2 separate regions of the Homo sapiens genome follow, and region 2 is linked to region 1. Evidence: fine-mapped expression QTL. A gene starts in region 1. The other region holds a variant in brackets. All regions are shown on one strand. Distances are from middle to middle.

What was found. PIP is the estimated chance that this variant, and not a neighbour inherited with it, causes the effect.
Region 2: its variant is fine-mapped to the expression of PRIMA1 in aorta (GTEx, PIP above 0.99).

Annotation. Positions count from the first base shown.
Region 1 is chr14:93,787,510-93,790,009 of GRCh38, reverse strand. It overlaps PRIMA1 (proline rich membrane anchor 1), which reads left to right and starts at 1,525. Exons shown (of 5, transcript NM_178013.4): 1 at 1,525-1,600; 2 at 2,261-2,384. The coding sequence starts at 2,292. RefSeq lists enhancers at 22-733, 734-1,447, 1,448-2,159.
Region 2 is chr14:93,861,375-93,864,327 of GRCh38, reverse strand. No RefSeq gene overlaps it. Among named protein-coding and RNA genes, the nearest start is that of FAM181A-AS1, 64 kb to the left of the region's middle. The variant T/A (reference allele first, on the strand shown) is at 1,885.

The DNA.
Region 1 (2,500 bases):
AAGGTCTCATTCACATTTGTCCCTGCATCTTGCTGGTTGAGGTGCAATCTGCAGCCTCGGGGCGGCGCTCTGGCATGAAGGAGGCCGCTAAGACGTTGTTCTGAAAGCTGGCTTGCAAGGTAGTTTATACTCTGCAAACCAGCGTTTATAGTGTGTGTTTACATGAGTGGCTTAAGGGTGTCCAAATACCGGGAAAAGGTGCTCAGTAAATGTTTCTTCCATGCATGCACTGTAGTATCTGACCCTCAGCTCTGTGTCTTAAGCCCCTGGTTCTCTCATCCAACCTAAAAATAGGATTGTCCAGGCCTTGAGGGCCTTCTGGAAGGCGCCCCCATCAGTCAAAGCGCTTGCAAAGTGCTTCCACCACAAGAGCAGAGAGGCCGCGCCATGCCTGTGATGCTGCTAGGCACAGCTTGTCTGAAAGAGATGCAACCAGGCTACCTCCCGAAGAACCGACTTGTTGATAATCTTGCCTCAAACAGAGGAGTTTGCAGATGGTTGAGGAAGAGCAGTGGTAGAAATGTTCTCCCCAGGGCCGTCACAACTCCTTCCCAGCCGCAGCCTAGTGTTGCAAGAGAGTTTCTGCTGCTGGGACTACAAAGGAGAGGACAAGGCCCATGGCCGGGAGAGGGGCGGCCTGCACCTTTCAGCCCCGGCGCCCGGGAGAGCCTGCGGGGAGTGCGGCGGGGAGAGTCCTCAAGGATGGAGCGCAAAAAAGGGTCTCAAGTCAGTCCTCGCCACCTTTCCGCAGCCTCGGGAGAGGCTTGGGGGAAGCGCAGGCAAGGGCCAAAACCCCATGGAAGTGGGAATCCTCGGCCTCCAGGGTGAATAAATAATTAAGCGCCCAATACACAATAGCCTCGCTAGATGGAGACGAGGAATCACTGCAGCGGCGCTGGCGGCGGCGGCGGGGGGAGCGCAACCCCGGGCGGGAGGCGGGAGAGGCTCTGGCTCGGCTCACGTCTGTTTTCCTTTTTCGTGGATTATTTATTTCGCCTCCACCCACGGCTTTGCTGCCCCAGCGGGAGCTCCCTGCCGGCGCCTCCCGCCGCTGCCTCTCGCGGGCCAGCGTGAGGGTAGTAGAGAGCTCGGGCACCCCAGTGCCCCGGGCAGCCGCGCGGCGCCACCAGGAAAGGCGGGGAGCCAACGCGGGCCCGGGGAGGGCTCGCGCGGCCGGCTCCAGGCGGCGTGGAGGAGACTTTCCCCGCCCTCTGCCTCCGCCTCGGCGGCCAGCCCTGGCCCTGGGAGCGGGGTGCCGCCCCTCCCGCCCCGCGCGCGGCTAGGCGCAGTCCGGAGCCACCGCGCCCTGCGCCCCGTGCGAGGACGCCGCTCCTGGTCCTCTGCTCAGCGGCCCGGGAGGCCCAACCGGCGCGCAAACTTTTGCTCCAGCGCCGGGCGCTCCTCCCCGGCATGTGAAGCCCCCGGGCGCCCGCGCAGCCGCCAAGGTGAGGACGGAGGCCCCGCCTAGAGGGCGGGGGACTGGGGAGGCGGCTGGCTTTAAATGGGGGCTGTCCGGCTGCTGGGAAACAGAGCTGCCGCGGGGGGAACGCGGACCTCTTTTCCCCGAGCCCAGGGTCGGCTGGGGCCGCCGCCAGGCAAGGTAGCGTGAGGCGTTGGAAGGGTGCGGGCGGAGATGGAGGCGTGGGGGAACCCACGCCCGGGAGCGGGAGATCGGGGCTGGGCGGAGGCGTGCAAAGGGGCAGCGCACGGAGGTGCCTATGTTGCAGTGTGCGCAATGAGGCCGGCTGGGCAGTGTGGGTGCAGGCAGCGTGAGATTTCTTGGGGCCGTGCATGCAGGGTCAGCGAGGGTGCAGGCAGGAGTCGGTGGGTGTGCACGGGGATCAGTGTGTGTGCACGGCTGTTTCTGTGGTTGTGCGCGCAGGTGAGTAGTGCCCGCCGGGTTTGAAGTGTGCTCACAGTGAGAGTGAGTTGTATGGGGGTTAATGGGGCGCAGTAAGTGTGCTTGGCTGTTTCTGGAGGTGTCCATGGGGCCAAGGTATGCACGCAGTATTCTGGAGCTGTGCGCGGAGCTAAAGTGTACACGCGGGGCTCTGGGGATGTGCGTAAGAAGAGTGTGAATTCTGGGACTGACGAAGAGTCAGTGAAGGTGTAAGCTGGAGTGTAAGTGCAGGCTTGGTTTACTAGGGTGCCCCTGGGTGCGGGGCGTGCCCGTCCGACCCGGGCTGGGAGGTATATTGGTGCGCGGCGGCGGAAGTGCCTGCGCGGTGTCCGCCTGACCCTAGCCTTGCTCTCCTGACAGTTCGCCCCAGGAGCGGGCGCCGCTGGCCGAGATGCTCCTCCGGGACTTGGTGCTGCGCCGTGGCTGCTGCTGGTCCTCGCTGCTGCTGCACTGCGCGCTCCACCCGCTCTGGGGCTTCGTGCAGGTGAGACGCGCCGGCTGCGCACTGGCTGGGAGGGCCTCCTGGGTAAGGGGCGAGCTGTCCCTTCCCTCCTGAGACCCTGGCCTCTTGCAGCCACCCCACTGATTGGTTCTCGGAAG
Region 2 (2,953 bases), 74 kb before region 1:
TTTTACCCACAATCACAAATAAATCAGGCTCCTCATGAGTTCTCTGGAGTTTTGCTGTGCAGTAAAGTGTTGGCTCAGCAGACCTGGATTATCCACACCCTATGCATTCCAAAGAGATATCTGTCCCCGGGCCAGCTCCTAGGAGATAACCTCTAAGCCTTTAGAATATCTTGCCTGATAATAGTGTCTTTGGGCCTGTGATGGTTAATACTGAGTGTCAATTTGATTGGATCGAAGGATGCAAAGTATTGATCCTGGGTGTGTCTGTGAGGGTGTTGCCAAAGGAGATTAATATTTGAGTTGGTGGGCTGGGAAAGGCAGAGCCACACTTAATCTGAGTGGGCACAATCTAATCAGCTGCCAGCTTGGCTAGAATATAAAGCGGGCAGAAAAACGTGAAAAGACTAGACCAGCCTAGCCTCCCAGCCTACATCTTTCTCCTGTGCTTGATGCTTCCTGCCCTTGAACATCAGACTCCAAGTCCTCCAGTTTTGGGACTCAGACTGGCTCTTCTTCCTCCTCAGCCTGTAGATGGCCTATTGTGGACCTTGTAATCATGTGAGTTAATGCTTAATAAACTCCCATATATATATGGGAGTATATATATATATATTCCATTAGTTCTGTCCCTCTAGAGAACCCTTACTAATACAGGGCCTATGCCAGATAGTCCATGCTAACAATGAGATTGCTGGTGCAGGCCTCTAGCCACACGTGTCTGTTTGACCTCTGAAGGGGCTGGGGACTAAGTAATGTCAGCCATGCAGGTGGTCAGCCATGCCTACACGACCAACCCTCAGTAAAAGCTCAGGACACAGAGGCTCAGGAGCTTCCGTTGTTGGTAGCTCTCCATGTGTGGTGTCACATTGCTCCTAGATGAATTAAGCATTGTCTGTAAAACTCCCCTGGAGGACAGCAACTGGAAGCTTGTCCCTGCTCTCTCCTGGCCTCCACCCTATGCACCCTCTCCCTTTTCTGGTTTTAATCTATGTCGTTCCACTGTTATAAAGCATAACCATGAATACAGCAACTTTTCTCAGTTGTGTGAGTCCCTCTAGCAAATCATCAAACCTGAGGGTTGTCTTGGAGACCCTTGAACACATCTGCTATTACAACATCCATCCTGTTTTGTTACAGGTCTGTATCCCTGCCCCACACCCTCAGACCATGAGCTAGGGCCCCAGGTATTTGGATCTTTGTCTCAGTTTCCTACCATCCACACCTGCTCCCTGGTACCTTCAGCTGGATACAACTGCCAAGGCTTTAGCTTATGATAGATTTTTCCTCAACTGCCTTCCAATTTTTTCTTGACAAATTACAAACCTGAGTTTCTTAGGCTAACATTGTACACGAAGGGCAGGCACACTCAAGCTTGACAGTCCCACTCAGACCACTGTCGGTTGCTCTCTAGGATGATAGCATTGTTTATAGGTTTTAGGGACCACTCCTTAGACTCTGTGAATGGAAATCCATAATGAGCTAAGTTGGACAAGCTCAGCAGTCTTAGAATGCCATACCACCATTCCTACTAAATACCACCCCTATCTGCTCCATGCTGGTCAACTCTCCTCCCTTCACCTGATAGTCTGATCCTTGGTAAAGGCCCCTGGAGCTCTGAGTGGCATTCCTGCTTGCATCCCAGGGTACGGAGGACCAGAGGGGATGACAGCCACGTAAGCACTGGGGGCACCTGAGAAAAAGACCCAGACCCTTCTCTGCAGGGTGGAAGTAGTGCAGAATCTTCCAAGAGCTGGTTTCCTTGGCAAGATGTTAAAAAAAAGGAAAACAGCCAAATCTGAGAGCAAAGAAAATCCTATTTGGTGACTTCATAGCTGGGTCTGAGCCTGGCCTGACCCCACACACAGACTAGCTGGAAAGAACAAC[T/A]GTCCTCACGATCCATGGCTGTGATGAAGCCATCTCCTCCTTATTTCACACCCTCCCCTCTTTCTCTCCTGCACCCATCACCTCTCTAGAAGGAGATAGACCAAGAAGGTTTTGCCTCTCCATGGTTAATGGAGGCCTGGGGATATGAGAGGGAAAGTTCAGATCCTCTTCGTAAATTTAATTTTTCTGTTTAGGCAACTGGCTCGGCTTCTAGAAGCAAGACTGCAATCTAAATAATATTTGTTTGGTGCTTCTTGGTTTATGAAACTCTTTTCTAGGCATTATCCCACTTGATCTTCATGATAATCCTAGAAACTTGGCAGGGCAGGAATTAACCCCCTCCTGACTCTTCCAGATGGGAAACAGGATCAGAGAGATTACGTGGCGGAGGGAACAGAGTCAGACTAGAATCTGAGTGTCTTCACGGATCTCAAGGTGGACGTTGTCACCCAGATGTCAGCTCCAGGAGGAAGGAGAGCTGGATGGGAGGCCTGGCCATGCCCACTGGAGGCAGCTCTGGACTTGCTGCCAGGCAATAGCAACTCTTGCTGCTCCATCTGCCAGGACGTGTTCCCCATCTCCAAGTCAGGCTGCTACTCATCTGTCTCATCCATCAGTTCTGCTATAACAAGACCCCTGAGACTGGGTCCTTTATAAAGAACAGAAGTTCATTTTCTTCCAGTTCTGGAGGCTGGAAAGTCCAAGATCAAGGCGCCAGCAGGTTTGGTGTCTGGCGAGGGCTGCTCTGCGCTTCCAGATGGTGCCTTGTGTCTGCATCCTCTGGAAGGGAGGGACACTGTGTTCTCACATGGTGGAGGGAATGGAAGGAGTGAAAGGGGGGCAAACTCCCTCTGTCAAGCCCTTTTATAAGGGCACCTAATCACATTTATGAGGCTGGAGCCTCATGACTCAATCATCTCCCAAAGGTCACAGCTCCCCATACTGTTACACTGGGAATTGAGTTCCTAACACATGAATTTGGGGACATACATCATCCTTCAGATCCCCACTCAAATGTCACCTTTTAGACATAGACTCCAGGAATCTTCCAGGCCAGCTAGATTATGTG